Linked DNA regions of Homo sapiens. The protein of the gene in region 2 interacts with the protein of the main gene of each other region in a pairwise test. Each region holds a gene or a part of one and is shown on either strand. Other genes may lie near its edges.

Region 1 (3,823 bases), on a different chromosome or scaffold from region 2:
GAAACATCAGGCAGCACACATAATGTGTGTGCTGAGCTCTCTGTGGGAAGCTAGCTTTGTTTCTGTATTAGTCCGTTGTCACATTGCTATAAAGAAATGCCTGAGACTGGGTAATTTACAAAGAAAAGAGGTTTAACTGGTTCACAGTTCCACAGGCTGTACAGGAAGAATGGCAACATCTACTTCTGGGAGGCCTCTGGGAGCTTTTACTTCAGCAGAAGGCAAAGTGGGAGCAGGTGTCTTACATGGCACGAGCAGGACCAAGGGCAGAGGGAGGTGCCACAGGCTTGTAAACAACTGGATCTTCTGAGAACTCCCTCAGGAGAACAGCAGCAAAGGGGGAAATCCACCCCCATAATCCAATCACCTCACACCAGGCCCCACCTCCAACATAGGGGATTACAATTTTACAAGAGACACAAATCCAAATCATATCAGTTTCCAATAGTGATTGTAGATCTCCCGCTGGTTGTGGGCAGAAGAAAATTTCCTAAGTTAGCAAGTTAGTGTGAGAATCAACATGAGGACATCAGGACATGGCCATACCTGTCACACTGGGCCTCCACATCTGGCCAGTTCTAAATAACCTTCATCCTAACTGGCCCAATGGCCTGAACCTTGAGTAATTCAGAAAACTCTCAATCTCAGTATCCTCCCGGGAGACCAGTCTCTCCATTTAACGGGTCTTAAGATTATATTTATTTAGTACCAGTTTATTTAAGAAAACCACATATCTATATTCTGTATACACTCTCAGGTCTAATAAAATGAAAATAATGAGAAAATTTCCATAAAACCCTTGCTTAAAACAATACCTCAAGTTTAAGGAATGCTAGACACCATTTTTGTTTCTGTGACATAAACATTGTTAACCTGATTTTTTCCATTGTGTGTTATTTGTAAAGGCAAGTAAATGGAACTGTGAGGTTCAAAGATAGAATAGACTGAAAACATGATTTTTGAGTATATGCTGTCTTTTGAACCTTGCTGCCCTCCTGTCACTAAAAGTGGGGAAGCTGACTTTTTAACCTTCTGTTTCATAGATTCGGTGCTAGTTGATGAACTCAGTAAATACTTCCGGGGCTATTTGTTTGCCAGTCATTGGTGCTAAGGGTTAAGGATGTAACAGTGAAAAACAGCCCTCACCCTTGGGGACCTTCTAGTCTAAATATAAACTGATTGGACTACTGAGGGTCAGATGAAATAGTGACTGGGGGATTTGTGTTATTGTTATATAAAAACACTATGGTGGAAACTATAAAGTATAATATAAAAGCAATGTGTTTTTGAGGCACTTGACACTTTAGGAAGTGCTTTTTGTGACTGCTTATTATCCTGGCCACAGCTCTGGAAGAAGAGAAAGGGCTCATGCTCTGCATTTTCCAGAAGTAGAAACTGAGAAACAGGGAGATTGCATGCCTTGCTCAAGATTACATATCTAATACATGACAGAGCCAGGATTCCAGCCCAGTTCCCTTGATCATTTTTAATGTAGGGGATCTTACCACATGCACGTATATTTAGTACTAGTGAGAAAATATTCCATTAACATTTGCATGATACCCTGGGAATAAAGGGAGGAGAGATGCTAGCAGTCTTTGAATGAATAAATAAAGACAACGAAAAAGAACGTTCAGTTGTTGTGCAGCAGGTCAGAGTTGAATGAGAACTGGATTGCCCAACTTGCCTTGATGATATTGTGCCTGAGGAGTCGGTTTTGATTCTGTTTTGTATTTTGATGTTTTGTTTGTCTTTCCTTAGTCCCTGTTCTGGGAAAATAGCCACCTCCTTGTTAACAGCTTTGCAGACAACACCCGTCGTTTTATGCCCCTGAGCGATGTTCTGTATGGCAGGGTTGCAGATTTCTTGAGCTGGTGTCGACAGAAAAATGACTCTGGTAAGACTCCTGCACAAATCACAGGAGACTTAAGAACTCCTATTTACTATGCATTACCATTTGTGCTAAATGCTTTCATATGCATTTATTTCACTTGATCCTCTCCAAGTCCTCTGAGATAAGTGGCAAGAATAGTTAATAATAACAATACTAGAGAATACTTAACTTTGCAGGTGCCAGTCTAAGCACTCTCTCTCTCTCTCTCTCTCTATATATATATATATATATACACATATATATACACATATATATACATATCTATACATATCTATATCTATATATACACACATACTCATTTGATGCCCACAACAACCTCATGGGATCCTATCATAATCCCCATTTTGATAAATGAGGAAACTGAGGCACAGCAAGATTAAGAAATCTGCTCAGGGGGCATAGCTAGTAAGCAGCAGACAGTCTGACTCCAGAGCCCATTTTCTCAACTTTGCACAACTCTGCCTTACTATCCTCATTTGTCCAGAGGGGGAAGCTGAGGCTTAGGGAGGTTAAATGACTGGAAGTGGTAAGGCTGGGTCTCAGTCCTGTCCTGATGGATTCTGAAGCCTGTGCTCTGTAACACCACTCCAGGCCGCCGGCAGATATTTCGAGATCCAAGTCACAAGGAAAGTTAGAGTCACAAGAGCTGGCCTGAATGTTCTGCAAACACTCCTCATTCATCCAACTGTGGTGCTAGGAGCTGGAGACACAGCAGTCCCCATCTTCAGGGAGGTTATAGCCTCATGGGGGATATCAGCTCGAGTGATATGGGCTATAATGCAGGAAAAATGGTGTTCGAGGAGTAGCAGAGTGAGACACCAGCCTCCACCAGATCATCAGGGAAGCTTCAGAAGGGAGGCTAGCAAGGAAAGGAGGTTAGGGAGTGTTTCCATTATGAAGACTGGAGATCCTTCCTGGGTATCAGAGTTACTTCAAAAGTTAACCTAATATCAGGCCGGGCATGGTAGCTCACGCTTGTAATCCTAGCACTTTGGGAGGCCGAGGTGGGTGGATCATTTGAGGTCACGAGTTCGAGATTAGCCTGGCCAACATGAAGAAATCCAAACTCTACTAAAAATACAAAAAAATTAGCCAGGTATGGTGGTGCATGCCTGTAATCACAGCTACTCGGGAGGCTGAGGCAGGAGAATCCCTCGAACCCTGGAGAAGGAGGTTGCACTGAGGCGAGATCATACCACTGCACTCCAGCCTGGATGACAGAGTGAGACTCGGCACACACAAAAAAAAGAGTTAACCTAATATCAGTTCTGTTTATTTCTCCTCCATTCATTTGTCCATCAAACTAAAATTTATAGTGTCTACTATGTGCCAGACCCTCATCTTCTAGACAGTAGGAAAACAGCAGAGAATAAAACATGAAATTAATACCCCATGCTTACATTATAGGAGGGCAGATAAGACAATAAACAGGCAAGTGAAATATACAGACTGCCTTAAGATTATAAGGGCTATGGAGAAAATTAAAACAGGTAATAAGGACAAAAAAGATTGAGGGTGGAGGGCCAGGGAAAGGAAAGTGTTGCATTTTTACCTAGATGCCGAGGGAAAACCTCACTGATAAGCTGATATTTGAACAAGGACCTGAAGGAGATGAGAAAGAGCATTTTCTGATGGGAGAACAGCAATTGCAAAGGCCCTGAGGTGGGAGCGTGTGTGACATATTTAACAGCAAAGAGGACAGTGGGCAAAGAGGAAAGTGTGAGCTATGAGGCTAGAGGAATAAAGGAGGGCCAGGTGGCACAGGATGTTGTGAGGCCTCTGCTTTTCACTGTGAGTGAGATGGGCAGCATTGCAGGTTCCACGTCAAATGGACACAGCCATTCTTTCAATGGAGAACTTCCAGGAAGCTTTTGTTTGATGATGCTGCAGAGGGTGGGGAGAAGGAGGGGAGGAATGTGATGAAAAACA
Region 2 (3,823 bases):
CTGAATGGATGAATGTTCCAAGTCCCAGTACCGGGTTGCCGACCTGGACCTCTGGTAAAGGTGATGTCAGCAAATAACCGCATAGGGGCTTAGGAGCTAAGGCATCAGAGAACATCTCAGATAATTTGCCAGGGTCTCCCCCTCCGAGCTTAATGTGTGCACCCTGGATCCAGAGACTCCACTTGTAGATGGCTCCTTGCAGCCCTGTTGGCAATAGCAAGGGACAGCAAAGCACCTAAATGTCCATCAGTGGGGGACTTATTAAATAAATGAAGACACATCCATGTGATGGAACACTACACGGCTGTTAACAAATAAGGTCTGTTACAACCACTTTGGAAAACTGTTTGGCAGGATCTTATAATGCTGAATCTGGGCATATCACATGATATGACGAGCTTGCAATTTCACTCCCAGATATATACCCAAAGACATGCGACCATAGGTACTAGGACATTTATAGCAGCACTACGGATAATGGCCTAAAACTGAACACCCCCCAGATGGCCTTCAACAGTAGAATGAACAAATAAATGGGGAAACATCTACATGGTGATATACTATGCAGCAAGGAGAATAAACCAGCTACACTACAGGTGCATGCAACAATATGCATGGACCTCATGTTTTATTTTATTTCATTTCTTTTTGAGATAGGATCTCACTCTGTGGCCCAGGCTGGAGTGCAGTGGCACAATTTCAGCCCACCGCTGCCTTGACCTCCTGGGCTCAAGCGATCCTCCCACCTTGGCCTCCCAAGTAGCTGGGACTACAGGCACACACCACTATGCCTGGCTAATTTTTGTATTTATTGTAGAGATGGGGTTTCGCTATGTTGCCCGGGCTGGCCTTGAACTCCTGAACTGAAGTGATACTCCCTCCTTGGCCTCCCAAAGTGCTGGGATTATAGGTGTGCACCACCAAGCCTGACCTGACCTCATATTTTATTTTGTTTATTTATTATTTATTATTTTTTTTCTTTGTTGAGACAGAGTCTTGTTCTGTTGCCCAGGCTGGAGTGCAGTAGCACAATCTCAACTCACCGCAAACTCCGCCTCCCAGGTTCAAGTGATTCTCCTGCCTCAGCCTCCCGAGTAGCTGGGATTACAGGCATCCACCACGGCACCTGGCTAATTTTTGTATTTTTAGTAGAGACGGGGTTTCACCATGTTGACTGGGCTGGTCTCGAACTCCTGACCTCAGGTAATCCACCCGCCTCGGCCTCCCTAAATGTTGGGATTACAGGCGTGAGCTCTCACGCCTGCAATCCCAGCACTTTGGGAGGCCGAGCGGGCGGATCACGAGGTCAGGAGATCAAGACCATCCTGGCTAACATGGTGAAACCCCGTCTCTACTAAAAATACAAAAAAAATTAGCCAGACGTGGTGGCGGGCGCCTGTAGTCCCAGCTACTCGCGAGGCTGAGACAGGAGAATGGCGTGAAATCGCGAGGCGAAGCTTGCAGTGAGCCGAGATTGCGCCACTGCACTCCAGCCTGGGCAACAGAGCGAGACTCCGTCTCACAAAAAAAAAAAAAAAAAAAAAGAAAACAAAAAATAAAGGCGTGAGCCACCGCGCCCAGCCCTGACCTCATATTTTAAAGTTGAACAAAGAAAGCCTTCTGGCTTTTGAAAAGAGACTCAAAATATTGTCTGATTCCATTCATGTGCAAAGTGCAAAACTAATCTTTGCTGGTAGAAGTTGGGATGGTGGTGACCCTGGAGGGCTGGGCAGTGACCGAGGGGGACACCAGGGGCTCTGAAAAACCAGCCGTGTTCTGTTTCTCGGTTGGGAGCTGGTTACATGCATGTAAAAACTCTTTAACAGCACACTTATGATTTGAGCACTTTTCTTTATAAATATACTTCAATAAAAAGTTTTTAAAAATGAAATCAAGCTGGCACAGTGGCTCGTGCCTGTCATCCCAGTACTTTGGGAGGCTGAGGTGGGCAGATCACTTGAGCCCAGGAGTTCGAGACCAGCCTGGGCAACATAAAGAAACCCTGTCTCTACAAAAAATACAAAAAGTAGCCGGGTGTGGTGGCATGCACCTGTAGTCCCAGCTACTCAGGTGGCTGAGGCAGGAGGATCACTTGAGCTCAAGAGTTTGAGGCTGCAGTGAGCCGAGATCACACCACTGCACTCCAGCCTGGGACACAGAGTGAGACCCCATCTCAAAAAAAAGAAATCTGGAACAATGCCTATACTATATGTATATGAACATATATATTTAAAATAATACATATACACATAGATTCATGAACAAAATAATACATACATGAATGTCTATTTATATGCTTACATGTATTTATATTTGTACATACAAAGAAAATATCTGAAAAGATACACCCAAAACAGAAGTTACTTCTTGGAAGAAAAGTGGGGGAGAAAAATGAACTTTTAATTTTTACTTTCTTTTTTTTTTTTTTTCTGTTGAGACAGAGTTTCGGTCTTTGTTGCCCAGGGTAGGGTGCAATGGCGTGATCTTGGCTCACTGCAACCTCCACCTTCTGGGTTCAATCAATTCTCCTGCCTCAGCCTCCCGAGTAGCTGGGATTACAGGCATGCGCCACCACGCCCGGCTAATTCTGTATTTTTAGTAGAGACAGGGTTTCACCATGTTGGCCAGGCTGGTCTCGAACTCCTGACCTCAGGTGATCCACCCGCCTCGGCCTCCCAGACTGCTGAGATTACAGGTGTGAGCCGCTGCGCCTGGCCCTTAATTTTTACTTTCTATATTTTTGCCCCATTTACTATTTTATAAGATATATATATGCTCTTATAGAAATTAACAGAAATAAAAGTGTCCCGGGATGGATGGGGTGTCCTACCTGGCAGAGTTTGGAGATAAGGCTGTAGATCGGAGGACACTGATTTCTGGATCATTTCGCAAATCTGAAAAACATGGGAAGAGAATGACTGAGTGAGTTCCCCAGCTCTGGTCTGGCCCCGTGCTGATCACTGCAGTCACATTATTCCACACATGTGCTCAGTGATCACTGATTTACAAATATTTATAAGTGCTTGTCATGAGCCAGGTACCAAGGAAATACAAACAATAAAACTATGTGGGCCCCCATGTGGACTCCACTAGGGTCCAGTTGGACTTTTCAGTCTGTCCCAGGGCTGGACACCTGAGCTAGGGAGTCACTGACACAGCCTGAGGAGGGGGCACTGGCTGGAGACAGTGCCTGAAACTCCACCATTACAAAGTTTTCCTTTGGGAGGTCCTGGCCTCTCAGAATTTAGAGTTTAATAGCAGAACTAGACACTAACTAGAAATAAACACAAATAAACATACAGTTAATGTAGATAGTTTTTTTGTTTTTTTTTTTTTTTGAGATGGAGTCTCGCCCTGTTGGCCAGGCTGGAGTGCAGTGTTGCGATCTCGGCTCACCCTCCTGGGTGAACCTCTGCCTCCTGGGTTCAAGCGATTCTCCTGCCTCAGCCTCCCAAGTAGCTGGGATCACAGGCATGTGCCACCACGCCCAGCTAATTGTTATATATTTAGTGGAGACGGGGTTTCACCATGTTGGCCAGGCTGGTCTTGAACTCCTGACCTCAGGCGATCCACCTGCCTTGGCCTCCCAAAGTGCTGGGATTACAGACGTGAGCCACCACATTCGGCCTGTAGATAGTTCTTAATGGTCATCCTGAACAGATTGGCTGGACTGATCAGTATTCCCCATTCCTGCTGGTACTCCTGGAAGACTGAATGCTGGGGTCTGTAGGCTACTCACACACAATTGCCACCAGTTGTGCGGCCTGCTTCTCAAGAGAAGGAAATGTGCATTTCCAAACTTGTTGGCTGTACTTGCCACTGT

Evidence for each region.
Region 1: the proteins of LBP (region 2) and BST1 interact in a two-hybrid assay, tested with the Homo sapiens proteins (one large-scale study listed by BioGRID and IntAct).

Annotation. Positions count from the first base shown.
Region 1 is NC_000004.12:15,705,750-15,709,572, forward strand, and holds part of BST1 (ADP-ribosyl cyclase/cyclic ADP-ribose hydrolase 2 precursor), read left to right. Parts: intron 1-1,761; coding exon 1,762-1,897; intron 1,898-3,823. UniProt on the Homo sapiens protein: Catalyzes both the synthesis of cyclic ADP-beta-D-ribose (cADPR) from NAD(+), and its hydrolysis to ADP-D-ribose (ADPR).
Region 2 is NC_000020.11:38,359,775-38,363,597, reverse strand, and holds part of LBP (lipopolysaccharide-binding protein precursor), read right to left. Parts: intron 2,895-3,823; coding exon 2,831-2,894; intron 1-2,830. UniProt on the Homo sapiens protein: Plays a role in the innate immune response. Binds to the lipid A moiety of bacterial lipopolysaccharides (LPS), a glycolipid present in the outer membrane of all Gram-negative bacteria.